Linked DNA regions of Homo sapiens. The protein of the gene in region 4 purifies or fractionates together with the protein of the main gene of each other region. This does not show direct contact. Each region holds a gene or a part of one and is shown on either strand. Other genes may lie near its edges. The genes, in order: CNOT11, CNOT7, CNOT1 and RC3H1.

Region 1 (7,217 bases), on a different chromosome or scaffold from region 4:
GATTGCAGGCATGAGCTACCACACCCGGCCTTACACCCAGTTTTTTAATAATACCTGGCAGAGCTACTCCTGCCCTCCCTCCTGCATCCCTAATCAATATCCAGCAAAAAATATCACTCCTGAGAATTTCTCCAGCTCCACAGGTGGTCGTTCCTTCCTCTTAACTACCCAGCATTACACAATCGCAGCCCTGCCTCTGTTCAGAGTCATCTGAAAAGCATTCTGAAGACATACCCACTAAATGTCTTACCCTAAACATACAATATCAGCAGCTCTGGGAGTGGAGTGTAGGCACTGATATTTTCTCTTCTATGTTATCTACACACCATCCCTACCTACTTTAATAATGGTATAATAGTGGGTAACACTCACAGGTACTTTTTTTTTTTTTGAGACGGAGTCCCGCTCTTTAGCCCAGGCCGGATTGCAGTGGCACAATCTTGGCTCACTGCAAGCTCCGCCTCCCAGGTTCACGCCATTCTCCTGCCTCAGCCTCCCAAGTAGCTGGGACTACAGGCGCCCGCCACCGCGCCCGGCTAATTTTTTGTATTTTTAGTAGAGACGGGGTTTCACCGTGTTAGCCAAGATGGTCTCGATCTCCTGACCTTGTGATCCGCCCGCCTCGGCCTCCCAAAGTGCTGGGATTACAGGCGTGAGCCACCGCGCCCAGCCCACTCACAGGTACTTTTATTCTTTGTAACAACTCTACCAGCTGGGAATTGTTACTATTTGCATTTTACAGATGAGGAATCTGAGGCACAAAATGGTTAAATATAATCCATCCATGGATTCCTTCTCTGGTGACTGCCATCCCACCTATGGCAAATCTGTGTGTATAATGCGGTCTACGGACTAGGTGTGGGTTTAGATTCACTGTACATGAGAATGACATTATATAAGTCACGGTTTCTTTGCCTCACTTGTTCTTCAGAATTCAAAGGGCCCTCTGATCTAAATCCCAGTGTCCCAATCCTCTAATACAAGCACCCTAGGGTGGTGGTTGTCTGTGTGTGTGTGTGTGTTTAGAAGCTGTCACCCTAACTCACTGCAGCCTCAAACTCCTAGGCTCAAGTGATCCTCCTGCCTCAAACTCCTGAGCAGCTGGGGCTACAGGTGTTAGCCACCCCATGCCCAGCAAATTTTTTATTGCTTTGTAAAGACAGGATCTTACTATGTTGCCCAGGATGGTTTCAAACTCCTGGCCTCAAGCAATTCCCACCCCCCAACCTCCACCACTTCGGCCTCCAAAAGTGCTGGGATTATAGGCGTGAGCCACCTAGCCAGGCCTAGGTGGTGAGTTTTGACCACAAACCTGTGTTACATTCACTTTCTGGGCAGTCACAAGCTTCTTAGAAGCAGGTTAAGTACCTGTACCCTAAAGGCATCTCAGGCCAATACAAAGGGTTGCCCTTCTTAGATAAGGGCACTACAGGACACCTATCAGAAGATCCTGATGGGATGCCCGGCAGGAACACTAACTAGAAACGCGGCCCTCCTGTACCATAAAAACAAACTCCTGGTGTTACTTCAAAATCTACTGCCTAGCCTTGACTCACTGTATAGCAGGCCCTACCTATACTGGTTAAGGAATGTAAGATCAAGCTGTTTCCTATCTCTGTGTGCTTCCTCCACTACACTGGTTCCTAAATCCTTCAGGTCCCGTTGTCAACATGCCATTTTTCTTGTTTTCTGACTGCAAGTCTTCTCGCAAAGCAAATCCACATAAAGCATCACCTGCTTGAGCTTAAAAACAAAAAAAAATGCAGCCTCGCATCTAACCTACTAGTTTGATCTCACCAATGCCACACAATAGTAAATACATTTTACATAATGTATACCACGTATGCACTTTACATAATGTCCAGTAAGTCATGTGTTTCCAAACGCGAGATCATCAATTTGAGACTTTCTATCCTCTGCCCCCATCCCTAACAGGCTAAGAAAGGCGGCTGCAAAGTCTTTAAGGTGTTTCATGTGTATTTCCGCCCACCAACTTCTTCAGCTTCTTAATACTGACTTCCACGTACTCCTTTGAGACTAAAAACCGGGGACAGATCCAGTCTTATCATTGGTTTTAACTTCACACACCACAGACGGGTTTTCGAAGAACGAACCGTATTTGAGACACTAAACATGTCAAGACCTACACTGAGCTGTATGATGTGATGGGGTGTATAGAGAAATCATTTTCGGTGTCACGAACTTGCAATTAAGCTACCACCTCTCCATTCTTTAGAGTTAAGGCGGGGAGGAGTGAGGGGCGTGGGAACGCAGAGAGAGGCGGAAAAAGAGGATGATCATTTCACAGGGATAGTTAATTTCCCTTTCAGGTGAGTTCCCAGCAGCGCAGGTGGAAAGCTGCGGAATCTAACGCTATCCACACGGCACAGCTGGCTTCAGGAGGTACCTGAGAGCGGAGGGCGGTCGGGTTCCTGGCCGCCGCGGGCGGGCGGCGCGGGGTTGAGCAGGTGCGCGAAGCTGGCGGCGAAGGGGTTGGCGGCCAGCGGCTCGGTGCGGTACATCTCCCAGAGCAGGTAGAGCGCCGTGAGGCGCTGCGCCGCGCTAGGCAGCAGGTCGGGCTGCTGGAGCAGCATGACGAGCACCGAGCCCAGGCGGAAGTGGTCGGCCTTGCTGAAGTAGTGGTGGAAGGCGGTGGACAGGCCCTCGAAGGTGCTGCCGCCGCCCGCCTCCTCCGATATGATGCTCAGCAGGCTCGAGAGCTCCTTCGGGGTCAAGCTCATCCTGCCCGCGGGGCCCCCCGGGCCTCCGCTCCCGGACCCGGGGCCGCTTGCTCCGCCTCTGCCGCCGCCGGAGCCCCCGAAGCCGCTCCTGGACGCCGACCCTGCCGCTTCCCGGGACCCTCTTTGCTCCGCGGCGGTGAGAAGCCGGCCAGACGCCGCGCTCGCCCCTCCGCCGGGCATCAACCTCGCTCCCCTTCCCCTCTTCCCGGCCCGAGGGGCCCTGGCGCCGGCTCGCTCCGTCCCCGCGGCCGTAAAGCGCGCTGTTACACGACAGCGTCGCAAACAAAACACGTCGGGGAAACCAGACCGCCGCGGAGAGGGACAGCGCCCAGCGAAAGCGAGGCTGATGGAGCGAAGCCAGGAAGAGGATGCGGAGACGCGGGGTAGGCGGGGCGAATTGGCAGGAAGCGGGGGCGGGGCCCGGGAAGGGAGGGGAGGGGCGGGGCGAGGTCGGGCTGGTGGCGTTCAGGGTTAGGTCTGCCGAGGTCCCGCGGCAGGAGAGCCCGGGGACTGCATGCGTCTGCGCAGCTGCGAGGTTAAGCCGCCCTTTGGCGGTCCCCAGGACGGTTCCTGGTGCCAGACGGTCCCAGTAAGTGCTGTCTACGTTATTATTTGGAAGAATGCACCTCAGATGTTAACTATTTTCTTAATATAACATCCGTAAGTATTCGTCGTAAAAAGTATTGTAAATGCAGGCCGGGCGTGGTGGCGCGTGCCTGTAATCCCAGCACTTTGAGAGTCCTAGGCGGGAGGGTCGCTTGAGCCCGGGAGTCCCAGGCTGCAGTGAGCTGTGATCACCACTGCATTGCAGCCCGGGCGCTCTGTCTCAGAAACATTTTTTTTAATTTAGTAAATGCAAATATACCACACATTTCACATAACCACGGTTAATTTCTAGTCTTACACTCATTGCAGAAATGGAATCATACTGCACTATGAGCTTTTTTGTACATGGTTTTTTCTCTTAACATGATTTCGAGAACATGTCTCCAGTTAATATTCATTTACAAAATTGTTTGCTGTGCCACGTTTTACTTAGATTGCCCTAGGGCACTTATCCTGGGCACTTAGCTGTGCATTAGAAACCCACGGGGAGACGTTACAAATACCTAGTTCCACCCCCAGAGATGCTGATTGAGATATTAATAAACCCCACCTCTTCAGGTGAGTCTGAGGTGTAGTCTGGGCTGAGAACCACCAGGTGGCATTTCCCAGACTTGCCCGGTCCCTAAACCTACAGAAACGTACGCGTATTTCGCCAGTGATTACCACCAGCGATTCTAATTATCTAGTTAAGAGCCACCTCAATTCTTTTTTAAAACATATTTTTATTTTATTTTATGTGTTTTTGGGGAGAAAGATATTTTATGTAAAAAAAATTTTTTTCATCTTTTTAAAACTTGTATTTCAGTAGTTTTGGGGGTACAGGTGGTTTTTGGTTACATGGATAAGTTTTTAGTGGTGATTTCTGAGACTTTGGTGCACCCGTCACCAGAGCAGTGTACGCTGTACCTGTCAGGCCTCTGAGCCCAAGCCTGCACATATACATCCACATGGCCTGAAGTAACTGAAGAATCACAAAAGAAGTGCAAATGGCTGGTTCCTGCCTTAACTGATGACATTACCTTGTGAAATCCCTTCTCCTGGCTCAGAAGCTCCCCCGCTGAGCACCTTATGACCCCCGCCCCGGCCTGCCAGAGAACAACCCCCTTTGACTGTAATTTTCCACTACCCACCCAAATCCTATAAGATGGCCCCACCCCTCTCTCACTTCCCTGACTCTTTTCAGACTCAGCCCGCCTGCACCCAGGTGATTAAAAAGCTTTATTGCTCACACAGAGCCTGTTTGGTGGTCTCCACACGGACGCGCGTGACAGTACCCAAAATATAGTCTTTTATCCCTCAGCCCTGTCCCACGTATACCCCCTCCCACCCCAGAGTCCTCAAAGTCCATTATATCATTCTTATGTCTTTGCATCCTCATAACTTAGCTCCCACTTAGAAGTGTAATATTTGGTTTGCTACCTCAATTCTTATGAAAAATTTAAGGAAGAGAAATTGCTGGGTCAACAGGTGTGATATCTACTGAATTTTAAAGGCTTCTTCAATTTACTGCTAAATTGCACTTCAGAAAGATCCTGCCAATTAACGTTCCTAACAGCAGCAGATATAATGTGGTAACTTGGGGAACTGATTCAAATTAGCTCAAAAGTACTCTCATAAATTTTTTATTATAGGGCCTGGGCAAGGTGGCTTATGCCTGTAATCCCAGCACTTTAGGAGACCGAGGCAGGTGGATCACTTGAGGCCAGGAGTTTGAGACCAGCCTGGCCGTGGTGAAACCCCGAATCTACTAAAAATATAAAAATTGGCCGAGCATGGCGGCTCATGCCTGTAATCCCAGCTACTTGGGAGGATGAGGCAGAAGAATGGCTTGAACCTGGGAGGTGGAGGTTGCAGTGAGCCGAGATCTCACCACTGCACTCCAGCCTGGGCGACAGAGTGAGACTGTCTCAAAAAAAAATTTTTGTTATTATAATAAACTGTATTTTGTGCAAGCCATTTTACATTGGGTGGTCTATGGGTCTATTTGTTATTGTAATTTTCCTGCAGTTCTAATACTATTTAATAGTAGTAATTATACCAATTGCCAGTTATTAATGTAGTAATACTAATGCTGTGTGGGTTTTTTCCAAGATGTTTCAAAAATATTTGAACATTTTATTTTATCTTAAAAAAAAAATAAAAAACATGGGAAGCCGAGGCGGGTGGATCATCGAGGTCGGGAGTTCAAGACCAGCCTAACCAACATGGAGAAAACCCGTCTGTACTAAAAATACAAAAAAATTAGCCAGGCGTGGTGGTGGGCACCTGTAATCACAGGTAATTGGGAGGCTGAGACAGGAGAATCATTTAAACCCTGGAGGCAGAGGTTGCAGTGAGCCGAGATCGTGCTGCTGCACTCCAGCCTGGGTGATAGAGACTCTGTCTCAAAAAGAAAACCGGTTAGGACTAGGTGTGCCATCTGCATAGAGTGTGAATCTCTGGCAGCCCCCACCCCAGTCTTTTATTATGCAGGCAGGTAGCTATTCTTGTGACTGATCTCTTTCCTACTGTGTACATGCTAACAAAAAAGGGAAGGTGGAGCCCCCATGGTGGACACGCATGGCCCCAGGTTGCTGTGTCTGTGTGGCTGCTGGCATCACCCTGTGCAAGCTTCCAGCTTCCTTATTTATGTCTGCAGCTCGATCTTTCAGGCTGCTCTTTGTTAGAAAATAAGTGATTTCTTGGGCTGCTTTTTGCTTCTTTTTTCTTTTCCCTTCATGACCATTACCACGTAGGATATAAGCCTCTGGCTTGCCTCCTATATAGCCCCTCATTTCCTTCCCCATATTTGGCAACCAGACCAGCATCCAGGACAACATAAACTATGCCACTGGTTGTTAGAAGGCTTGGGACATTTGTCTCTTTGCCAGCCTTAGCTTAACCCAGGAGACAAAGATTATTATCTCTCCTGCATAGGATCTGCAATCAGAACTATTGAACTTCTCCATCTGGACCACCACTCACACCTATAGGAAAAGGGTAATATAATAGATCATTGCCTAAATAACAGGGAATCCTGTTCATATGATGGAAAATGGGGACAAAAGGCTTTGGTACCTAAAACATTATTCCTACCTTGGCATAGAAACTCACTGACACCTACCTTAACGCTATTATGCTTATTTGCTGTTTTTAGAGAATTTATTAGGACAATTTCAAGCTCAAAATATGCTAACTGGTGCCTTGTTAGCCACACAGAATTGTACCTAAAAACTTTCTAGACCAACTCACTATAAAATTAAACTTTCTTTAGGTGTCCACGTCGCCCCTAAGTCATGCCAGAAGCAGCCCTGATTAACATAACCCCTACCCCAATAATCCCCAGTAAAAACTTATGTTTTCTTTATCTTTTCTTATAACTTTATATTTTATAAGTAAAAAGACAGGAATGTCAGGCCTCTGAGCCAAAGCTCATCCGTTGTAACCCCTGTGACCTGCACGTCCAGATGGCCTGCAGGAGCCAAGAAGTCTGGAGCAGCCAAAAAACCACAAAAGAAGTGAAACAGCCAGTTCCTGCCTTAACTAATTAATCCACCTTATGGCATTCTACCATTATGACTTGCTCCTGCCCTGCCCCAACTAATCAATTGACCTCGTGACATTCTTCTTCTGGACAATGAGTTTTATGATCTCCCCACCATGCACCTTGTGACCCCCTCCTCTGCTGACGATAGATAACCACCTTTAACTGTAACTTTCCACTGCCTACCCAAGCCCTATAAAGCTGCCCTTTCCTATCTCCCTTCGCTGACTCTCTTTTTGGACTCATCCCACTTGCACCCAAGTGAATAAACAGCCTTGTTGCTCACACAAAGCCTGTTTAGGTGGTTTATATGGACACACGTGACACTAAGCAATTCCAGAAGTGTG
Region 2 (8,134 bases), on a different chromosome or scaffold from region 4:
CAGTCTTCCAAATACAAAAAAAGCTGCAGTCATATTTTAAATATAACATCTTTAACATCAAAGTATTTTTTTTGGTCCCATAGTAAAAAAGAAAACCACGCTTTTGAAATGTTACGTTTTATATATTTCCAGGATAACTACACCAAATTCACCTAGCATGTCACCATACTTGAGGAAAATCAATTCCTAAGATTAAAGAAAAAAAAAAAAAAGTCTGGGTTATACAGTTATTTCCCACTTACGTCAAATTAAATTTAAAATTAAACTGCCAAGTTGAAGTTCCTGGAGGGTATTCTCCTTGCTCATTCATAAATGTCAGTCCTAGCTGAATTATCTTTAACAAGTCTACATTACACCGCAATAGTTGGTATTGATAGTCAGCATTGCTCCTGAATTCTCCAATGGGTCTTGCAACCACACCTGGAAACTCGGTGTCCTGTAAAATAGTTTTAAGATTCATTATGTACTAAACAGTCAAAACTACAATCCACACATTTTTAATTTTTGATGCAAATCAAAGAATCCTACAGATGATATTCTACACATTTATATTCAATTACAAAGTATATTTTAACTAGAAAGAACATCACTTTTTAGAACCATAAAACTCTATAAACTTAATAACCTTTCCTTAAATATATCCAAAAAGTTACTATACGAGATACATGTGATAAATTTAACCAAATACTTACTCTATAACCAAGAAAGGGGGGAAAATCATAAATTCCTGTCTCCCAAAGGATACATGAAATGATGCTCACAGTATTCCAATGCTAAAACCAAGTTTCTTGAAGAACTGGTTCAAAAGAGGGGAAAACGCCCTGTACTTTCCAATTGCTTCTCTGACACAAGGTTTTTCTCAACACCAAAACCCTAAGAAAAACATCATTAGCTTCCTAATTTCTCTGGCTTAAACAATATTCTCTCTATAGTCCACAGAAAGCATGCTGTCAAGAATTGCATGCCACCTACTCACTCTTGTAGGATGTTATCACTTCTCTATGTTGCCACTCTTTATCATCTGAGAAATCAATGATCACTATGAATTTCCATTGGTTAAGAAAACAATTTTAGTTCTAATCATGGGTAAGTACACCTTTATCAAATAGTATGTCATCTACAAAGAAACAGTCATATTTTAACCAATCAACTTGCTCCTCCCCAAAGTAATGCATTTGTTTATTTTTATTAAAAATACTGAGACAAAGATACATCGGTTTAGTATTAGAATTCAAACTAGGGCTAGCTAAGAATAAAAACTACCTATCAAGTCACTATGAAATAGTAAAGAAATCAATATTTCTCTAAATTCAGTGCAATTCAACAGCCACTTTATTGAATACTATATGTGTTATGCTAGGTGTTGGGAGAGAAAGGATTAAAACACTTGGTTTATGGAGCTAATAATAATCCAGTGGATGTAGAAAACAGTAGGGTAGCTAACAGATATAGACAGTATAATGGTAAAGAAGAAAAATCATTAACTGGATAGACAATCTAGGCAGACCAAACAGCACGTGCAAAAGCAGAGTTGCTTAGTAACACAGTATATTCACAGAACTCCAGTGTTAATTATGAAAACAAATTGCAGACCAACAACGTTTCACTGGCACATCTGATTTTTTTGTTTGAGAAAGAGCACCCTAGCTTCTGGGAGCTCATGTGGTACTACCAGCTAGGCTTTGGTGTTGCTAGGAGCAGACCTGGCACTCATAGCCACGCCCTAATGTTCTCCTGTTGAACACAATTTCACAAAAGTTCAACCTCAAATAAGGCCACTCTGTAATCATGTCTGAACAAGGACAAAAAAATAAAAATGTCAAACCACAAAATGACCAAGTATCTCCATCCTGGCTAAATGAATGACTGTTCCTTCTCTGCAGCTTTAACCTCATTCTAGTCTCTCATTTAAGACTTAGTAAGATACCCAATCACAGAATTACCCCAGCTTCCCGAACACATCCAATCCACAGTAAAGCTCTGCTTCCCTTACCTTCCCCTAAGACCACCTGACACGAGCCCAAATCCTTCCTAACTCTTATTCAAACGGCCCATGGTTCCCATGAATTCCAGTGCGTTTTCCCTCACTGCAATGAGGGATAAACCCAACCTGTCAAATCACAGGTGTATTCCTGATGGATTTTGGCTGGAGGGCAGTGACAAATTTTACTTTTCATGGTGAAATTAATCCCTAAAAATATCAACCAAAAGGGTTGAATTCAAGACTTTAAAATTTCCTTTTCCTCCTTTATATGAAGCGTTTTAAAGATCTGCTTGTGGGCATACCATAGCAACGTAATTATATTTTCGGATAACTTGACGAATTTTCTTCATCTCTTCATCCAAGTTGCAAGCCCAAACTTCACAAATTCTTTGGCTATGATCTACAGTTGCCGCTGGCATAGTGAGGGCACAAGGGAGTCTAGATGCCAAGCATCAAAATGTTATACTTGATTGAAGATTTGTTTCATAAAATATTTTATCCTTTATTTATGTACCTGTCAAAATAAAAAAACAATATGAAGACCAGATATATCAAATCTGAATCACAGAATAATTGATCCAGCAGGAACCTAAGAAGTTATTTATTCAAAGTTCTTGACTCATAAAAAAAAAAAATCAAAGTTTAGAAAGTAACTTAAGGTCACACAGCTAGTCTATAGGAAAAAAAGGACTACAGTACAGATTTCCTGGTCCTAATTTCAGTTATTTTAAAATAGCTTTTTTACACATACATACTAATCATATTTTATAACTTTCCACTAATTATTTATCTGAGTTCAACTACTCTGCATAAAACTTTATAAAGCCATCCATTTCCAGACAAAAAATGAAAAATTACTTATTTACATGTGACAAGATCAGATGTTACCATGGCAAAGATGGTGTTTATTTTTATTCCTCATTAATAAAACAACCAAAATCCGACTTGATAACAAGATCTACTTTACCGGCGTTTATTCTAACTAGACTAGAGGGGTCAAAAATGTTTGTAAATGCTCTGAGAAAAAAGTAACGGCCATGAAAATTATCTGAATGTTCGCAGTTGCAGAACGGAAAAAGAACACAATAGAACGTCTAAAACTTAGAGCATATTGCATGGTTACCAAAGATAGATGTCACATTTCTGGTCTATAAACAGAGTTCCTGTTGATTCTTGGGCAGGGAAATTTCAAATCCTTCTGCATTTTTCATACAAATTGGAAAAAAAAAAAACAAGAGTAAAAAGAGGGTCTTATGACTGTCTTCTAAACTCTGAAGAGTCACAAATGTAACTTCCAATTCTCCAAGTAGAGAAACTAAAGGAGATCCAGGACACCCCTCCTTTATAACTCTCCCACCCCGATAGGCACACACACACACATAAGCACAAAAACACAAAGACTTGGAAAGACCCTGTAGTCTAACATTGTTTTCCTCCACCTCTCTCTCTACTGCAGTCCCAGAAGCCCCGAAGAGACACCAAAGGCCTTCTCATTACTGGAGAAAGCATCTCCGTACTGCAGTTTCCCAGAGAAACGAGAGGACGGCACCGAGGTATTCAAGCCATAGATAACTCTCTTCCCTGGCAAAGCGCCAGTGCGAAGGTGCTGATAACACTGACTGGAGCTACACTGACTCCCAAGCACTGCCGCGTGAAACAATACGAAGAGGTGAGGATCTAGGCCACCGCCCTCCACTCCCAATTTCCGTCCCACTGCGAAGCCCCAGGTACAAAGCCTTTGCGTCATCACTACGCGCCAACCCCTTGACAAACCCCCAGCCCCAGTTACCCAGCCCCCAACCCGCCGCCAGGCTCCTTCCTCCGCCAGCCGCACTCCAGCTGGCGCCATCGCGCACCCTCTCAGGTTCATCGTCCCCGCCCCCTTTCTACTTCCCTAACCCGCCCCTCCCCCCGTAAGGCTGCAGCGGATGCAAGATCTACTTGTGTCGCTGAGCTCGCGCTCCTCCTCCTCCTCCTCGCCATAGAGACAGCACTCGGCGGCGGTGGCGGTGGCGGTGGCGGTAGCGGCGGCGGCAGCGGGTGCCCCATAGACACCTCTCGCCCAGCGAAGGGAAAGGCGAGCAGGAGCTGCGCCGCACCGTGCTGCGCCGTCGCTTTTCGCACGTCCTGACGGGGGCGCTAGATGATGACGCGACACGCAGAGGGGGCGGAGAGCGCCCCCGGGGGCGGGGCACGCAAGTGACGGCGGCGCGGGTGGTGGAGCGCTGGGCGGCCAGGCTCCCTGGCTGGCCGGTTTGGGCGTCTGGGCCGTGAAGGTGGGACCTCCTGTTCCGGGCCGCAAGTTTCCCTCTCCAGCCGCCCGCCGTTCGTAGCATGTCCCCCAGAACTCGGGGAGCGCAGGCAGGACAGGCTTAGAGAAGACGCGGTCCCCAGCGCTTGGGCCACGGACGTCCCACCCCGCTCCTCTGTCGCTGGAGAACCGCCGGGCCGAGCCACTGGGAGAAGCAGGCCAGAGCCTTCCAGGGCCTCCGGCCCGTGGACCCGAGGAGGATGAGCTGGCTTTTTCCCCTGACCAAGAGCGCCTCCTCCTCCGCGGCTGGGTCCCCCGGTGGCCTCACCAGCCTCCAGCAGCAGAAGCAGCGCCTGATCGAGTCCCTCCGGAACTCACACTCCAGGTGACTGGTCGCTGCCTCTCCACCGGAGGAAAAAGTAGGGTGGGAGGGCGGGCTTGTCCTAACCACCCTCACAGCGCCTCAGTCTGCTCCCCACCAGCTCCTCATGTGGTTTACCTCCCTTGGTTGTGGGTCACACGCTTGCTCTGCCACTCCTGCCCCCTTTTACTGTTTTCCTCCGGACCCTCCCTGCCTCCTGCCGCACCACTGCTCAGCGCTTCTAACTCGGATTTCCTCATCCCTCCTGACACATAGCTGCTGACTGTAATCTCTCAATCTCTCTCATAGTCTATTTCCAGTATCCCTTGCTGCCCAGGCTTCGCCACTGATCTTTCCCTTTGCCCACCTGATTGCCGCGTCAGCAGAATTGTTAAAATACAATTGTGAAGAGTAATCTCCAGGTTTCACAAAGAATGGAAAATAGAACTGTTGCAACATCAAAGGAAAGGGAAGCCAGAGTTTTCATCAGTGAATGCTTCTCGTCTGAGAGTCACTTATCACGTAGTCAGTCTTCTTGAGTCTCTAAGATTTACCCTGTTGGAGCAGTCTCTCCCCATCTCACAGCGACCAGTGCATGTACATTTCTCACTTCTTTCATAGTCTTGTCCCCACGCTCAAGAATTACTTTATGTTCATCTTGATTGTTCTGTTGTCTTCCTGTGAGTTTTTCATTTTATCATGGTCAGTTTAGAAATATTTTTACAATTCATATTATTTCAACTTTTACTGTAAATTGGTTTGCTGCAGCCTTTTACATTGCAAATGTCTATGGTCTCTAATGGTTTTCAAAAATTAGAACTGCTTCTTTATATTTTATGCATTTTGCAAGTATATTTACTTAACAGTTTCACACTATTTTAAATAAAGATGACAACATTGTTAAGTCCCTAACCCCTTTTTTTTTTTTTTTTTTTGCCGGGGGTACGGCTCTCCTGTTGCCCAGGCTGGAGCGCAGTGGCGCGATCTCGGTTCACTGCAACCTCCGTCTCCCGGATTCAAGCAATCATCCTCCCTCAGCTCCCCACACCCCTCCGAGTAGCTGGGATTACAGGTGCGCGCCACCATGCGCGGCTAATATTTTGTATTTTTAGTAGAGACGGGGTTTCACCACATTGGTCAGGCTGGTCTCGAACTCCTGACCTTAGATTATCCACCCGCTTCGGCCTCCCAAAGTGCTGGGATTACAGGAATAAGCCACCTCGCCGGGCTCCTAGCCCTTTTAAAAATATTATTTTCATACAGTTAAAAAATATGTATCCTCAGATAATATCGAATAATTCTTATTTAAAATGGAATAATTTTTAATTAAATAGTCTAGTTAATAGAAAAATTTACTGCAAAATCAGTTTGGCTAAAATAAGGCCTGATGCTGACTGAACTTTAGGTGTTTCTTGGTTCGTTGTCTCAATTGTTCTGTTTGTTCAGAACTTTCAAAAGGTGAAATTTTATGCTGTTTAACAGAAAAGAATGGCAGGCTGTTATTGGTGGCTTTCATTCTGGAAAATTAAGTTCGCAAAGTTCTTACAAGTCACTCTTACTCCAAATCATGTTCTGTACTGACCTTTAAGAGCTACTCTCACAAGGTATGCTTATAAAATAAGGGGACTCGTTTTTAACATGTTTGTTCCCTTAGAAGTTGTTACCTTGGTAGACTATATACCAAACCAGTCCTGCTATTGCAGAAACACTTTTTTAGAACCACACTTTTGGAATTAATTGCTTTTAAACCTTAGTATGTAGTATTATGTTAAATATTTTCAATGCTGACTAATTTTTTTCTTCGAGGTTGGAGTTTAATTTTTTAAATACTACAAAGTCTCTTGCTGCTAAGGCTGGTAAGTAAGGGAAGTAATTGATGTGAAATTTATAATTTTGGCCTCCCAAATAAAGTGAGATTCTATAGCAGCAATTGTTAATGTAAAGAGTTCTGGAATTGGCTTAAGAGGATCAGTAAATACGCGGAGTTGGATACAGAAAGGATTCATTTTATGTATTATTTTTTGAACCAGAAATTATGAACGTATGATTGGACATGATTACATTAGATAATGTAATTTATTTTGTAGTGTTATGAACAAATAACTAAGTATTTTATTGTTTTAAGTTCTTTTATAAAAACACTTGAAGTTTTATTGAGATGTTTCGCATTTACAAATTATACTCGAATAATTCCGGAGACACTTAAGTAGGTCATATGCTTCCAGTTTTCAAAGAATGGCACAATCCTGGAAAATGCCACTCACCTATTCTTGTTAGTCCACCCTTTTAAATAATGACATATATTTGTAAGCTGGGAGGTAAAAAATAATCTGTCTGTATGGTATCTGATGTAAAGATGGAAAAGGTGTGATATTTTTTCTCATCAGTCATAAGGGGCACAGCTGACCCTCCTGTAACAAAAGACAGGTTAACAAGCGAAAAGCATAACAGATTTATTTAATCAAAGTTTTACACTGCATGGGAGCCTTCAGAAATGAAGCCCCAGAGACCGAAGGAAAACTGTCTGTATTTATGATTAGGTTCAATGAAGAATGGACAGCCATGTAGAAATGTGATTGGACAAAAAGAGTATGGTAATGGTAATAGACAGAGGTAGGGGAAACCCACCAAGGCCTGTTTGTTCAGATTTTTCTTGGCTTCTCTGTATAACTTTCTACTCCTCTAGTGGACCGGCCCGGGCTCATATGGAGTGAGGGTCTTCAGGGCGGAAGGGAAAGTGACCTTTCTAGATTTTTTGTAGGGAAGAAGGGTTGTAGTTTGTAATATACCGCCCAGGGGAGGAGGAATTCTGGTTTCTATGACTTCTTCAATGGAGAAAGAGGGGCAGGAGGTGGTCAGAGAGAGCTTTACTTCTGAGGCCCTCCAGACTCCTTTAATTCAAAGTAATCAGCCTACCAAAGTGCAATATTTTGGGGTATTGTTTTCTGAGCCCCAATACTGGCAATATGTTGCCTGATTACCTAAATTAGTGGTACGACTTACACTTAAAAGATTTTTGTGCGAACAGACAGATTGGTTATTCTAAAGGTGTGGTGTGTAAAAGTTGAAAGAATTTCCAGTGTGTTTTTTCCTATGAACAGTACAAAAACTTGTTACATGAGGAATATCAATATCTTGTTACATGCTGTCCATCTCCCTCATGTTTCGTTTTATGTCTCTTCTCCAAATGTAAGCTCAATAGGTGAATATCTTTTTTTGGCCATGAAAGTATCTTTTCTTCTGCTCTACTGAGTAACCTTTCTCTACCCCATTCTGTCATCTCCCTTCCAACTCTTACAATTTTTAACCCCTTATAATTCCGAAAATTCCACTTCAGCAGTCTCTTTTTGTCCCTTTCTCTAATGATTGTGAACTTTTTAGTTGCCTTAAATTCTTATCTCCTCAGCTACCTCAGTCTTCTACAAAAAAAATAGGTGAATTTTATGTAAATTTTTTCATCTGAGTCTCAACAATATGCACGGCAAATGAGATAACTGTCATAGATGACACTCACAGAAAAGTGTTTAACCAAAGTGTT
Region 3 (8,108 bases), on a different chromosome or scaffold from region 4:
AACCAATAACAAAGATTTTAAAACTCCAACAAGCTACCCCCAGAAAAATCAATAATTTGTACAACAGGTAAGTACCAAATGGAAATACAAATCTGATCTAGGTATTTTAATGTAATAAAATGTTACATTAAGTTAAAATAATGTGGGAAACACAAGTTTATTTAAAAGAAAGGAAAAATTAGAAACTATATGACATATGAACTAGAAGTGAAGCACAGTGGGAATGTTATTTGGCTAGTTCCCCTCAACCCTTTAAACAAACAAACAAAAAAAGACAACAGTAAAATATGCATTAAGGCTACAGAGGAAGAACAGTTCACTACTTACTAAACACAGAAACCAAGTTCCGAAAAAAAAAACTTCAAGGTTATCTTGAAATTTTTGAAACAACTTAACTGTTCCTGATAAGCAGTAAAGACAACTGAACTGGTTGGACTACGATAATACTGTACCCTGCTGGGACAGAATGCCAGCATGGCAAAGGGACTTTTTGTCTACACTGGTATCTGTAAAACTAACAGAGAGTGAGGAATATTAGGACTGAGTACTATGGTCAAGGAGGAGCGCAAGAAGGAAAGAATTTTCAAAAGGATACAAAACAGCACAGAAAAGTATAATACACTATCTTTTTCAAGAGAAAGATGAAATGAGAGCAAATAAGCCAGCAGGAAGGGCTGAGACAGGTGCCACATCCATACCCACGAAATAGCAATGATCAGAAAGACCAATGGATTCCAATTTCTTCCATTCAAATTATAAATCAGACTATAAAACATGCAGTAATAGCTTTTCAGTAGGGTATGCTTTGTAATTCCCTGGATTCTTTTAGGGGAGAAATATACTCGGTATGATTTACTGAGTAACATTCATTTTGAAAAGTAAACCTAATTTCTTTTTTTTTTTTAATTTTTTTTGAGACGGAGCCTCGCTCTGTCGCCCAGGCTGGAGTGCAGTGGTGCAATCTCGGCTCACTGTAAGCTTCATCTCCTGGGTTCACGCCATTCTTCTGCCTCAGCCTCCCGAGTAGCTGGGACTACAGGCACCCGCCACCACACCCGGCTAATTTTTTTGTATTTTTAGTAGAGACAGGGTTTCACTGTGTTAGCCAGGATGGTCTCGATATCCTGACCTCGTGATCCGCCTGCCTCGGCCTCCCAAAGTGCTGGGATTACAGGCGTGAGCCACAGCACCTGGCTGAAAAGTAAACCTAGTTTCAAATAACTTCTAGAATTGAAGTCAGTTCTTCCACATTCAATTGTCATTAATTTGAAAAGAGACCTAATTTGTAATCTTTCTTTAGCAATATACCTAAAAGTTTTGGGTTCAGTTTGAAGAAATATAATGGTCAATCTGCAGAAATAAGCAGACAACTCACCCTGAAAAAAAATTACAACAGTTCTAATAAAGGAAATTCCAAGGTCAATTCAGGAAAAGTACCACTCTTGCCAAGTTATATTATAAATTAGGACACATGGACTTATTGTGTCTGATTCCCTCACAGTCGCTGAAAGCAACCAGTGATAATAAAAAACGAATGCTAAATGGTACTATGGCTCGGTTCCGACATTTTTCCTGTTCATCCTATTCACAAACATTCCTGCCAAACTTGATTTTCAGTTAGGTGCTTTGTTCCTAACCCTTTTAAGTCAAAGTCCAACTTGCATCAAATCTAATGAAAATACTGGGAAGTATTTTCCAAAGGAACATGTCACTACGTTTAGGTAGATATTTAAATTAGAAAATACAATAAAACACTCTACCATTTAAATAAGCATTTTTGTTTTGTCATTTTTTTTTAATGTGGGCTACTGTGAGAATTTTACATATTTATTAGCCCACAGTCCCATCAGTGCTAGTAAAAATACATTTGGTAGTTTTATTATTCATTATCTGACCCATTGTACTTTGTAGCTGTGACAACTGAAATGGAATATACAGAACCAACGGTGGGAGGGAATGTTGCCTTTACTGCTTAGTGATCAACCATGAGAAAACAGGCTGTAATTTAACCATATAATGATGACAGTTTGGGTTTGCATGAGTATGGAGGTAACTGTCTGACCACATGTACGCAATACTGAGCTTTAATATTGGAGGCATCACACCCTACTTATGTTGAATAAAAAGCACCTTTCTTTCCAAAAGCTCTACCTGTCCAACAAATGCAGAGAAAGCTTTGGTACTGTCGCGGCCAGCTGCTGCTGAATGGTAGAGATTCACCCATTCCCTCAGAAGATACTCTGCCTTCTCCCTCAGGCCTGGAGGGTCATCATACTCTGAGGCTTGAGAGATCCCAGAATGCATCATAAAGTTTGGGCCTCCATGAGCACGATCAATCATTGCTTCATAGTTGGATCGCACTACTTCCATCAGCTGGGGCAATCTAGCACAATAAATAAAGGGTGAAAATCAGTCTCCTCGTAGTTGTGATTTTACAGACATACGCATGTATAGTTTGCTTATTTAACAGCAACCACCAGAGTGGTTTACCACTTCGCTTTACCACTTCCACACTGAAACAAAACTATACTTAGTCTCTTATCCGCTTGCTCATGAGCATACAACACACAAACAACTGCCCTCAGTTAAGCTACTTCTTGCCCAAAAAACGTGTTCATTTAAATGAAACTGATGTTCAGAGTCGACAAATATTCACTGTTTGCCTACTATGTACCATGCTTTCTTTACGTTACTTCTCTTGATTTCCAATAGTTCTTTGAGAAATTATTTCCATTTTCTATAAAGAATAGGTTTAAGGAGGATAAGTCAATTTGCCTAAAATCAGAAAGCTTTTAAGTGGCATGACCAGGGCTTAAACATAGGACTCTGACACTAAGTCTGGTACCGTATGTACTGCTCTGTGCCAAGAAGACTTGGCAGTCAATTAGGCTTTCATACTTCAAGTGACAATATTAGCCCTTACCAAAGCTACCCACCCATATGTGGTTGGTAAAGCAGTTATAACAAGTAATGTTAGTAAGTCTGCATATTCATTCCTAAAGATATTAGAAGACTACTAAATGCACAGGGATCTCAAAGCATTTCATCCTCACCCTTCTGGAGCATTGCCTCTGGAATGAGCATTAATCCTCATGAGGGTTTCAATGGTGTGGAACAGATCTGCCTCAGTAACATGAGCAACACTCCTTTCATCCACCAGCAGGATTTTTACTAACTGCATAGCAAATGCCACAGCCATGTAGTTTAAGCCATTCTCCATTGACTGGCAACACAGAAAACATAATGTGAGAGGGAAAACACTTAAGAGCAAACGTACTTCCCTGAGTCCTTTTGTCCGTGCAAGTAAATTCCTTCCATACCTGCGCTAGGTGAAGATCATACTGCTGCATATTAACCAAATGATTGCGAATTAGCAGCTCCACAGCCTCCACATTATATTTATATTCATCTCGACATTCAATTAGGCACCTAGAAAAAGTTCAATATCTTTACTCATATAGGCTTAACCATACTGTAAAAGGGCCCATTTTACTCAATGGAAATTTGCTCCAAACTAAGAATGCCTTGAGATTCAACTCCAAATCAGTGTCCAAATTTAAAAACAGCCAGTAATGAAATAGAACAGATAGCCCAAGCTTTCCTTTCAAATCCTAGGATACAGAGTATTCCATTTAAGACATTAAAATACTTATACACGAATACCACTTCTGAGAAATCACTGTAACCTTTTAAAACAATGACCTACAATTTATTCCCCAAAACAAGGTACTGGTTTTCTATATCCAACATGGGGAGAAGGTAGAGACCAGATGGAAAACAACTACTTAACAATTCTCACCTCTCAGAAGTAGGAAGTCTAAGTGTCCGACCTACCTACTAGAAAAAAGGGAAACCCCTGGACATAAACAGTACTATCTATGTCAAAAGGCAGTCGCAGTCCAATACTCACTACTTTTCGAAGATGGCTACTGACCTTGTGATCTGTTTGTTGCACCATGGAGACCCATATGCCCGGCCATCCTGCAGAGCTTTTAGGACCAAGAGGTGGCATTCCCTGTAGCGCAGCAGAAGGTCAGCATCAGCACCACTTGTGGCATCTAGTAAGCCCTCTACAGCCTATGGGAGAAAGAAAGCGTTCAAAACCATGAAAAATACAGTGCTTGGCCCAACTATCACAGCCAGAAACCAAATCTCAATGCCAAGTACCAAATACCTTCCAAAGCCTCCCTGTCCTTTCCACTCTCCAAACATCCCTTTCAGTTGCCTATCACACACACTCTAAATTCTATCTGATTTAAGTTCATTCTGTGCTCTTCATTGTCATAAAAGGCTCTGCTGTAGTTAAAATCCAGGGCTCCCTACCTACCCTGATCCAAATTATTGGATCAACTTGTCCCTCAAAATCTAAAGGGCAGCTGGGCTCAGTGGCTCATGTCTATAATCCTAGCGCTTTGGGAGGCTCAGGAGGGAGGGCCACTTGAGCCCAGGAGATTGAGAACGACCTGGACAACAAAGCAAGACCTGTCTCTACAAAAAAATTAAAAATTAGCTTGGCTTGGCAGTGAGCACCTGTAATACCAGCTACTCGAGAAGGTGATGTGGGAGGTTCACTTAAGCCCATGATCACATCACTGCACTCAAGCCTGACAGAGAGAGACCCTGTCTCTTACACACACACACACACACACACACACAGACACACACACCCCTCTAAAGGGCTACCTTTTAAAGTTTCTTCAAATCACATTTCCAGAATATCTTTAAGAAAAAAAATGAAGATTTCCAAGTTTACCATTCAAAACTGCCATGACTACATTCTACGTTGGAAAAAAAAAAAATCACCTACTTACAGAACTTGATTTATATTATGAAATCTTAAGCATAACTGCATAAATATGTAGATGGTGGTGCAGGTCAATAAATGTTTACACACCTAGCATTTTCTAAAAGTAATAGCTTAAGAACCAACCTTTTGGAGCAATCCAAGAGCAGCTATGGCATCCCGAGAGTTTCGAGATAAAACTACAACCTCCAAGAGACTTCGAAGAGCCTGAGCTTGAGGGTTCATGGCCAAAGTTGGTGGGATGGCATGTAGATGTTGCTCCAGTTCTGTAATACACTTATCATAAATCTGAGCTACATCATCTGTTGCCCAAGCTTGCTGTTTTACAGAAGGAAACAACCAACAAGAGACAAAAGAATGTTAAGGTTTTTTATTGACACATGTATCAAATAGAGGTCTACTAGTATGTTTACTCCCTTTTTCTTATTTTTACATTCAAACATGGAGGGCCTCTTCTTTTCCTTCTTCCTGAGCTATTCAGAATTAATACCATCAAGTGGCACAGTACAAGGCAGGCATAAGGGAAGAGGTGTTTCATTTGAGAGAGGAAAACCTGGCAGACAGCAGCATAATCAAGTGATAAAAGAGAGCATTAGTAACAATGAGACAGACTGAGGGCAGCACCACTTGTACCATCTACTAAGCCCTCTATATCCTAAGAAAGTAAGTGTTTCAAACCATGAAAAATACAGTACTCAGTCCAACTGTCAAAGCCTGATAGGATAGAGTAAGAATACAGCATTACTTCTGAGCTATTCCTATTTTTAAAAACACATTACCTGAACCTAGTCATGAGAATACACTGGACAAACAAATCAAGTCATTTAGAAAATAATTAGCCTATAATATTCAGAAGTGTTATGGTCATGAAAGATGAGGAAAAACTGAGTTACCTACACCAGCTAGAACTGAGGGAGACTTTAAAAATATGACAACTGAAGAAATGTGTGATTCTAAAACAGGTCTTTTACTATACATTATTGGGATACATGGTGAAACTCGAGTGAGGTCTATGAATTAGATGGAGTAAGGTTATTAGTATTCATTTCTGACCTTAATGGTTGTACCATGGTCACACAGGAAAAGGGTTTTTTAAGAAATACAAACCAAAGGAAAAAGGTTTTGTAAGAAATACAAACCAAAGGATTCAGGAGCGATGGGGGTATCAGGTCAGCAACTTACTATCGACCGGTTCGGGGGAAAATATTTTTCCCTATATTTCCAAGTTTTCTGTAAACACCTTTGAAAATTTTAGAAAATTCTTTTATTTAAAAAATGGGAAGGCTGGGCACAATGGCTCAGGCCTGTAATCCCAGCACTTTGGGAGGCCAAGGTAGGCGATCACTTGAGGTCAGCAGTTTGAGTCTAGTCTAGGCAACATGGCAAAACCCCATCTTTACAAAAAATACAAAAATTAGCTGAGCATGGTGGCACACGCCTGTAGTCCTAGCTCCTCAGGAGGCTGAGGTGGGAGGATCGCTTGAGTCTGGGAGGTGGAGGTTGCAATGAGCTGAGATCGCGCCACTGCACTCCAGCCTGGGTGACAGAGAAAGACCCTGTCTCAAAAAAATAAATAATAAAATTTAAAAATAAAAAACCGAAAGTTATTATGTTACCATGAGAATTCCCCTAATTAGGCCGAACATTAAAGTTAAATCACCCACACCCATGTCAATTTTTCTTTAATCCCCTGTATGTCATACTTAATTGGACACAAAGAATACCTACAACTCAAAAACTATAGGTGTTTTTTCCCCTGTAAATTATTCTCCCAGGAAGCAAGTCAAAAACATATATTAAATGTCAAAAACATTTAAATTAATTGGCAAAACACTCAATTTAATCTAAAACACATTTACCTTCATGGGCTGGGCTAAAAATCCCGTGGGCTGACTTAAGTCATTTGTAGGTAAGAAGCCAGGAACATTGCGTGCAAACTCTTCGTAAACAGCCAACTGCTTTGGGTCCACACCACCAACCTTGAAAGAAGAAAACCTATTTTGACAGAATTCACTCAATAATCAAAATAAACTGTTTTGAAAGTGGAAAGTCTGCATGTGGGTAAGCTCAGGGACACAAGAGTCATTACAACATATAACAGCATGATTAAGCATGCACGCACACACAAATGCAGTTCAGAAGAGGGCTTCTCATTTCCCTGAATCCTGCTAAGAGTCACCTCATTTATAAATTAACTGAGAGTTTCTCTTGGAAAATGCCTCACATGGGACGATGCCAGTGCAATTCTCCCTTGAAGCTGGTAAATATTATCAGATTTCTCACTGTCTCACTGGGAACAATAAGCAACCATTAATGTGAGAAGCCCAAGTTGGGAAACATGAAAACTAGCAGGCACATGAACTCCTTAGAGTAATAACACTTCAACAACTCTGGAGGAGCAAGGGAATTTAGAGCTATTTCCATACCTCCTCCACAGGCAGCCATTCAGTGAAATGCTATCAAGTTAAGATGTTTTCTCATAAACAATATTTAACCCTGCTGTCCTAATTCCAGTAAGGAGTTCAATCAACAACAACATTAAAAATAAAACAAAGATGGGACGGGGAAAGACAGAGCCCCAATTCTCACTTTCAGCCTGATTTGCTCTGGCATCCGTTCAGCTTGATATGTTAAAACAACAGGATCACAGTATCTGCGTCCTTCTTGCCTAGCATGTTTTCTCAGCTCAAATTCCTGCAAACAAAAAAAGTCACTGAGGTTCTTGTTATAAGGCACTTCCCTAAATTAAAAAAGAAAATCTTAAAAGGCAAATTCTAAACACTTACAGTTGCTAATCTCTTGTCCATCTCAGGGCCTGCTTTTTCTACTGCAGTCTTCTGAATAAAACAGCAAGCCAACTCACAATTGTCCTGAGCTAATTGAGCAGCTGCCTGATCCATCATTTCTCTTTGTTGTGGGGAAGCAGTCTATTAATGGAGGTGGGTGGGGGGGTGGGGGGAATAGAAGGAAAAAGACTTGAAAGTTGATGTGGACAGACAGGATAGTAGAAAATGCAGTGCATTTGGCAAATGCATTTTAAGTTCTGACTCTACTTATGAACAAGCTGTGATCTTGAAACAGTCTTAACAGCTTCCTCACTTTTAAGACAAAAATATCCTAGACACCTTATCAGTTTATTGTGAACATGCCTTAAAATCAGTAAAGCAGGCCAGACGCGGTGGCTCACACCTCTAATCCCAGCACTTTGGGAGGCCAAGGCAGGTAGATCACTTGAGGCCAGGAGTTTGAGACCAGCCTAGCCAACATGGTGAAGCCACTTCTCTACTAAAAAAATACATAAATT
Region 4 (5,882 bases):
GCTCATCAGCGGTTTTAGGAATTCACTAACACCCCCAAAATTTGTTTTTTGTTTTTTGCTTTTTTTCCTTTTCCTTTTCTCTGTGATATCATGAGCCTGTAAGGACAAATGGCATATTTGGGCATAACTGCTTGACTCTGTAACTACTTTTTTAAAATCAAAATTGAAAAGGTATTAATTGCTTCTGGCTTTTTAATTTTTTTTTTTAGAGACAAAGATGAAACCAGATAGGAAATACAGTTTTTATGTTTTCTACTTACTAAAATATTAGTTTCTTCTAAATATTACTTTATTTGTATTTCACTAAATTCCAAAGCAAAAATCAGATATCTGAGATGAACAATTTTGAATGGGTTAAGGTAGGAGTAATAAGCATTGTGTTCACTCATACATAGGTGAGGGAATTTTATTTATAGCGAGAAATATAAAAGTATTTTGACTTACTCTTTTTTCAAGGAGTCGCTAGGAAAGGGTAGAAGAACTGAGAATAAGACATCTAGATTCCATTTCTGGTTTATATGTAGCTCTTTTGCCTAATTTATATATAATTTTGTCATAAGATAAGTCCAGTAACTGTCCTGTCTTAGATAACGTACAGAGGCTGAAGTGACCAAAGATCCATTCCTTATTACTTTTCTAATTAAAAGAAGAGTTAGCTAGATTTCTAGTAGTAGTATTCTAGATATTGATAAGACATTATTCCTAATGCCAACTACAAATATTCAACTACTCAGAATGTATTTAAAAAATTGTTTGGTACAGCATTAATGTTGGTGATTCCTTTCTCCCATCTTATTTCCCTTCCCTTCTATTCTTTCCCATGTATTTCTTTTGCCTAAAAGAATATTGGTATGATTCTCATTTGCTACTTTGAGTATATAACTCCATCAGACTTTCCAGAGTTCTTCAGGGATGGAGCTCAAAGTTTACATTTTTCCATATATGTCTTTTTTTTTCTTGACCTTTTTCCACCCTGTAATTTCCCCTTGACTTACCCACTGCCCTCCCCAATCTGCAACAGTGACAGTTTGCTGCCTCAAAACAGAGCATTCAAATGAATTCGCTTAGCCAATAACTTCTGTGAAGTTGCCTTTTCTAATGGTGTTATTACTCAGTGATGCACAAATGTGGTATTTGCCCTACTGGTAGGCAAACAAAGGTCTGGTTAAGAATGGTAACCTGCTGTTTTCTTTAAAGGAGAGCCAAAGACTTGTGCTTTACTCTGTTTTGGTTTTGGGGGAAGTAGTAGCCATTTTGATCATGAAACCTTTTAGTATTTGTGAGTTGATTGTACTGTGTAAGTAGATTTATCTAAAGTTAACTGTTAAAGTTAGCTAGCCTTATAAAATGTAAAAGTAATGAAAATTCATCAGTTTCTCTAAGCCAGTGAATGTCGTCTTTTGTAATATTGTGTATAAGCATTTGTGCCCACCCCAGCTTCTGCTATCACTGTGGTCAAGTCATGGGTCTGAGTAAAAGAATTCTTGAGTATGTGACTGGTGAGAAATAACTAACTATAGTCAGTACATGTACAGATTGTTAAAATTCAAGACAAAATACTTTCACTAAAAAAAAGGATTCGTCTCAGTAAAGAAGTATTCAGTTGCTGTCACTTACATACAAATGGTGGTGGGTAGCAGTCTCACCATTTTTCTACTCTCTTTTTGCTCGTTTTAAATAATTGAGTAAAGGTTTTATTTGTAAAATCTATCTGTAAAAAGCACCTGTAACGATTTATATGTCATTGAAAGGAATGGCCCAGTTACTTTTTAGGAGAGATTAATAACCTACCTGGAAATTAACTGCAGTGTTTACTTAGATTTTTTCCCCCTAATAAGAGTCTAAGTGTGTTAAATTTTTAACTGATGATATGGTTACAGTGTTGCAAGGTGATCTCTTCCCCTGAAAAATCTGCCTATCCTTTTAAGAAAAATTAGACCTACTAAACTAAAGCAAATTTTACTTTCATCATTAGCACCTAAACAAGCAAGCAGTCTACTACTGTCATCATTTTACCTGAGTGCCCATTTTGCTGATCCACATTCATACCTTTCTACCTTGGACAGCTATGATTTTTATATTTATTTGTTGCTTCAGCTCAGGTTTATGAAATTTTCCTGCTGAAATGACTTATTGGGAGTTGTAGGTTGATTATAGTTACTATTAAACATTTTCTCAATTTAGCTTTTCTGAGCCACTTCAAGAAGAAAGCTGTTTTTGTCAAAAGGTACTATTAATTGTAGCAAGTAAATCTTAAGATTTGAATTTTTAAGATTTTATTTCTGTGTTCACTAAAGATCTTTCCACAAGTAATAGATTATAATTGATAAGTAATACTAGCTATAGTGTTAATAAAGAGTAAGACTATCACCACCAGGAATAAGTAACACCTTTTAATAATAAATCTATTCCTAATAGGTATGTTTTCAATACTGCACTGAACAAAGTGGGTAAAGAGCCCTTTGAAATCTTATTGTAATAAAGGGACTTACCTCACCACTGGAATCCTTGTTTTCAGAGCCTCTGGATTTTCAGCCAAACACTGAATTTCTCCTAAACTTTATCCCTGAAACATCCCTAGAGAACGAACTTTATTTTCACAAGAAAATAAGGCACAATAAGGGGGAAGAACTTAAACCTCAACATAATATCGTGTCCAAAAATGTGTATTTAGAAAAATAAAATCCTGTGGAGTTTGTTATCCTAATGTTTATTTTATACTAGATAAGGTGACTTGTTTTCTTGTATTGAGGTCTTACTGTTTCAGATTTGTTTTTGTTTCTGTTCTAACTCTAAGCAGACAGAGCTCACAAGTCTTTGGCATCCATTTTAGGTTGTACACTCAGAGTCATCTTATAACTGGAAACTGTCAGGTGGTCCCCCACCCCAGTGAGTGTATGAAAGAGTCAAGAAAAAGATTGGAAACAAACTATTGGGTGAATAATTGGTTGCTCTATTATTATTATTATTATTATTTGCCTTTTTTTAATCACCATTTATTTGTGTAATCTTTCTCCATTGATTGGCTGTCATTCTTATAATATCTGAACTACCCCATAAAATAATTCTCTGACTTAAAGGCATTTAGCTTTTGCTTATCGTTTTTACATCCTCTATTCAACTAAGACACTGTCTTGAGAGTTATTTTTTCCAGATGGATCGTTGGCCTAAATTTTCACACTTCTCCCCTGTTCATCCTTTTTCCTCTTCCCTGCTTCCTGGGAATAAAAGGAACTTTTTTAAAAAAATTAATTAGTCCACAGGTCTCATTATCTTTCTTTATGATTAATCTATGACTTTTTGGTACAAGAACAATGGAAAAAGTGAATTAAGGTAATGAACAAAACCTTTCACCCACTTAAACATTTTCCAGTTTTGAGATTCCTCTTCGTGTTTGTGGTGTCTTCCCCTTGTTACCCCTTCTGCCCTTTTTCTCTGACTATGGTAATTTGGTCTTTAGGCTCATATCAGTCTCCCCGAGACATTCTGCAGTCATTATCACCTTTTTGGGTGGATTTTATTTTGTTTTATTTTGTTTTTTTTAAAAAAATAACTTTTTAACATTGGTGCATATTTGCTTGGGATAGAGCTTGTGTAATTTACCAATCGTATTGATTGTAAGTGATTGTGCCCTGCAGAGGTATATTTAACAAGACAAAAATAATCTTGGTTAATAAAGGAGCCCATGAGATTTGAGTCAGGTTGTAAGTGAAATCACTTACACTTTTGGATAGAATTTATACTCCTGCTCTTATAAATCAGTGGTAGACTTACCATTTTTTAAAGTTTTCTTGCATTTTTTTGTTTTTTTATTGCCACAGCTCCCTATTCTTTCTTGCCTGCCTCCACCCCCCTGTTCAGGAAAAAAAAAAATTGAGCCTTAAAGTGACAGCTGATTTTTTAATTGCTGAATTTTGTGAAATTTTACTTTTTCCAAGTGTTTCCAACTTTAAAAAGAGAAGTGAAGACAAATAGGTTGGAATGGTGAAGACAAATGGATTGGAATTTCACAGGCTGTGAATAATTCCTTAGGATCTGGCAAACCGTGAAGTCTTATTTGAAGACCTTATCTCCTGAGAGTTCTTTTGGAGTAGGAAAAAGAACCCTATTTGAAATAGACCGTTTTTCTCTTGTTTTTAATCTGTTTAATATTTCTGATTTTTAAGCAGCTTTCAAAACAAGTGTGGTGGAAAAAAAGAAATAGTAGTAGGAAGATGTTTAGGGCAGCAGAACTCTGGGTCTAAATAAGTACATGTTCCCACTTGTTGCCGATTTTTGAGAGTACTAGGGCCATCTTTCTCAATTTTGTATTATTTGTGTGCATGTTTATATCAAAGATGCCCATTTTGTTAAAATGCTATTTCCTTTATTACCTTGGAAACTGACTCAGCCTCATGTTGCTCCTAATTAGTGTTTAAGGCTCCCATGAGTTGCAGATAAAATGATTTATTTTAACAAGTAGAAGGAGGTGATTCACCTTTTGGATTGTAAATATATGAAAATGTCTACAAGGTCTTTATCTGCTTTCTGTCAGCATTTATATTAAATGATAAATTAATGAGGAACGTGTGTATTTTGTAAATGAGTGTGTGCCATCTTATTCTAATCTTGAGATTACTTTCTTACACGTTTTTAATGGAGGGGGCTTTTTTAGGTGAAAAATAAAGAAATGGCTAATCTGCATGAGCAAACACATACTTGGAGTAGCCAATTTTGTGTGGACATCACAGGAATTAGTCCAATCTTAAATAAGCTACAGTCATATTCCTTCATTTGTCACACAGTGATTGCACATTAGGAGTGAGGGTAGTGGTTCTGAGATACTAGCATCAATTCAATGAGATTCAATGGCTAACATCCAGTGTCTCGGTTTTTATGGCGCTTCTGAAAATTAGGACCATCTTTATGCTTAAGTGAAAAGGACTTGTCATGGTAACTTCCTGATGCAAAATGTTTTTTTGTCTTTCCATTTTTTTTTTTTTTTTTTGAGATGGTGTCTTGCTCTGTTGTCCAGGCTGGAGTGCAGGGGCACAATCTCAGCTCACTGCAGCCTCTGCCTCCCCAGTTCAAGCAATTCTCTTGCCTCAGCCTCCCAAGTAGCTGAGAATATAGGCCTGCGCCACCATGCCCAGCTAATTTTTACATTTTTAGTAGAGATGGGGTTTCACCATGTTGGCCAGGCTGGTCTCAAACTCCTGATGTCAAGCGATCTGCCCGCCTCAGCCTCCCAAAGTGCTGGGATTACAGGCATGAGCCACTATGCCCAGCCTTGTCTTCCCATTCTTGCTGACTTCTGATTGTCCTGAAATCCCCACCCATTAGTCATTCCTCGAAGTTAGTGGATATAAGTAAGTTTGTCTAATAGAGACCATACGTTAGTCAACACCTCAATGGCATGAAGAAGAAAAGGGAGGAGGTTGGGTGTGGTGGCTCGTGTGTGTAGTCCCAGCTACTCAGGAGGCTGAGGCGGGAGGATTGCTAAAGTCCAGGAGATCAAAGCTACAATGAGCTATGATGCTTGATCGCACCACTACACCAGCCTGGGCAATGGAATGAGACTCTATTATTCTAGATTAAAAGAAATGTAAGAAGTACAAAAATCAAATGCAGCATAGGTGATTTTAGCAAACCAAATACACAAAAGACTTTTGTATACAGGAAAATTTGATTAAGTATTGGGCATTAGATGATACCAAGGAATGGCATTTTCGTTCATTGTGAAACATGATTATGTAAAAAATCCATTTTTTTAATAAAGATGGATAACACAATAGCTGCAATTTCCTTTAAAGTAGGAACTAAATATTTTTAAAAAGTAAATAATGCAGCCACGCACGGTGGCTCACACCTTGTAATCCCAGCACTTTGGGAGGCCGAGGCAG

What was found.
Region 1: the proteins of RC3H1 (region 4) and CNOT11 purify together in Homo sapiens (affinity purification with mass spectrometry, with the first as the bait; 4 studies listed by BioGRID). This does not show direct contact.
Region 2: the proteins of RC3H1 (region 4) and CNOT7 purify together in Homo sapiens (affinity purification with mass spectrometry; 5 studies listed by BioGRID, with this or other methods). This does not show direct contact.
Region 3: the proteins of RC3H1 (region 4) and CNOT1 purify together in Homo sapiens (affinity purification with mass spectrometry; 5 studies listed by BioGRID, with this or other methods). This does not show direct contact.

What each region holds. Positions count from the first base shown.
Region 1 is NC_000002.12:101,248,669-101,255,885, reverse strand, and holds the start of CNOT11 (CCR4-NOT transcription complex subunit 11), read right to left. Parts: upstream 3,001-7,217; 5' UTR 2,922-3,000; coding exon 2,408-2,921; intron 1-2,407. UniProt on the Homo sapiens protein: Component of the CCR4-NOT complex which is one of the major cellular mRNA deadenylases and is linked to various cellular processes including bulk mRNA degradation, miRNA-mediated repression, translational repression during translational initiation and general transcription regulation.
Region 2 is NC_000008.11:17,242,750-17,250,883, forward strand, and holds the start of CNOT7 (CCR4-NOT transcription complex subunit 7), read right to left. Parts: upstream 4,109-8,134; 5' UTR 3,926-4,108; intron 3,847-3,925; exon of another isoform or gene 3,409-3,846; intron 3,183-3,408; exon of another isoform or gene 3,108-3,182; intron 2,499-3,107; 5' UTR 2,404-2,498; coding exon 2,287-2,403; intron 874-2,286; exon of another isoform or gene 693-873; intron 437-692; coding exon 243-436; intron 1-242. Other genes in the region: VPS37A (vacuolar protein sorting-associated protein 37A), read left to right, coding at 4,496-4,620. UniProt on the Homo sapiens protein: Has 3'-5' poly(A) exoribonuclease activity for synthetic poly(A) RNA substrate. Its function seems to be partially redundant with that of CNOT8.
Region 3 is NC_000016.10:58,534,838-58,542,945, forward strand, and holds part of CNOT1 (CCR4-NOT transcription complex subunit 1), read right to left. Parts: intron 7,732-8,108; coding exon 7,591-7,731; intron 7,499-7,590; coding exon 7,394-7,498; intron 6,784-7,393; coding exon 6,664-6,783; intron 5,123-6,663; coding exon 4,931-5,122; intron 4,078-4,930; coding exon 3,935-4,077; intron 3,430-3,934; coding exon 3,321-3,429; intron 3,224-3,320; coding exon 3,054-3,223; intron 2,384-3,053; coding exon 2,152-2,383; intron 1-2,151.
Region 4 is NC_000001.11:173,929,897-173,935,778, reverse strand, and holds the end of RC3H1 (roquin-1), read left to right. Parts: 3' UTR 1-4,695; downstream 4,696-5,882. UniProt on the Homo sapiens protein: Post-transcriptional repressor of mRNAs containing a conserved stem loop motif, called constitutive decay element (CDE), which is often located in the 3'-UTR, as in HMGXB3, ICOS, IER3, NFKBID, NFKBIZ, PPP1R10, TNF, TNFRSF4 and in many more mRNAs.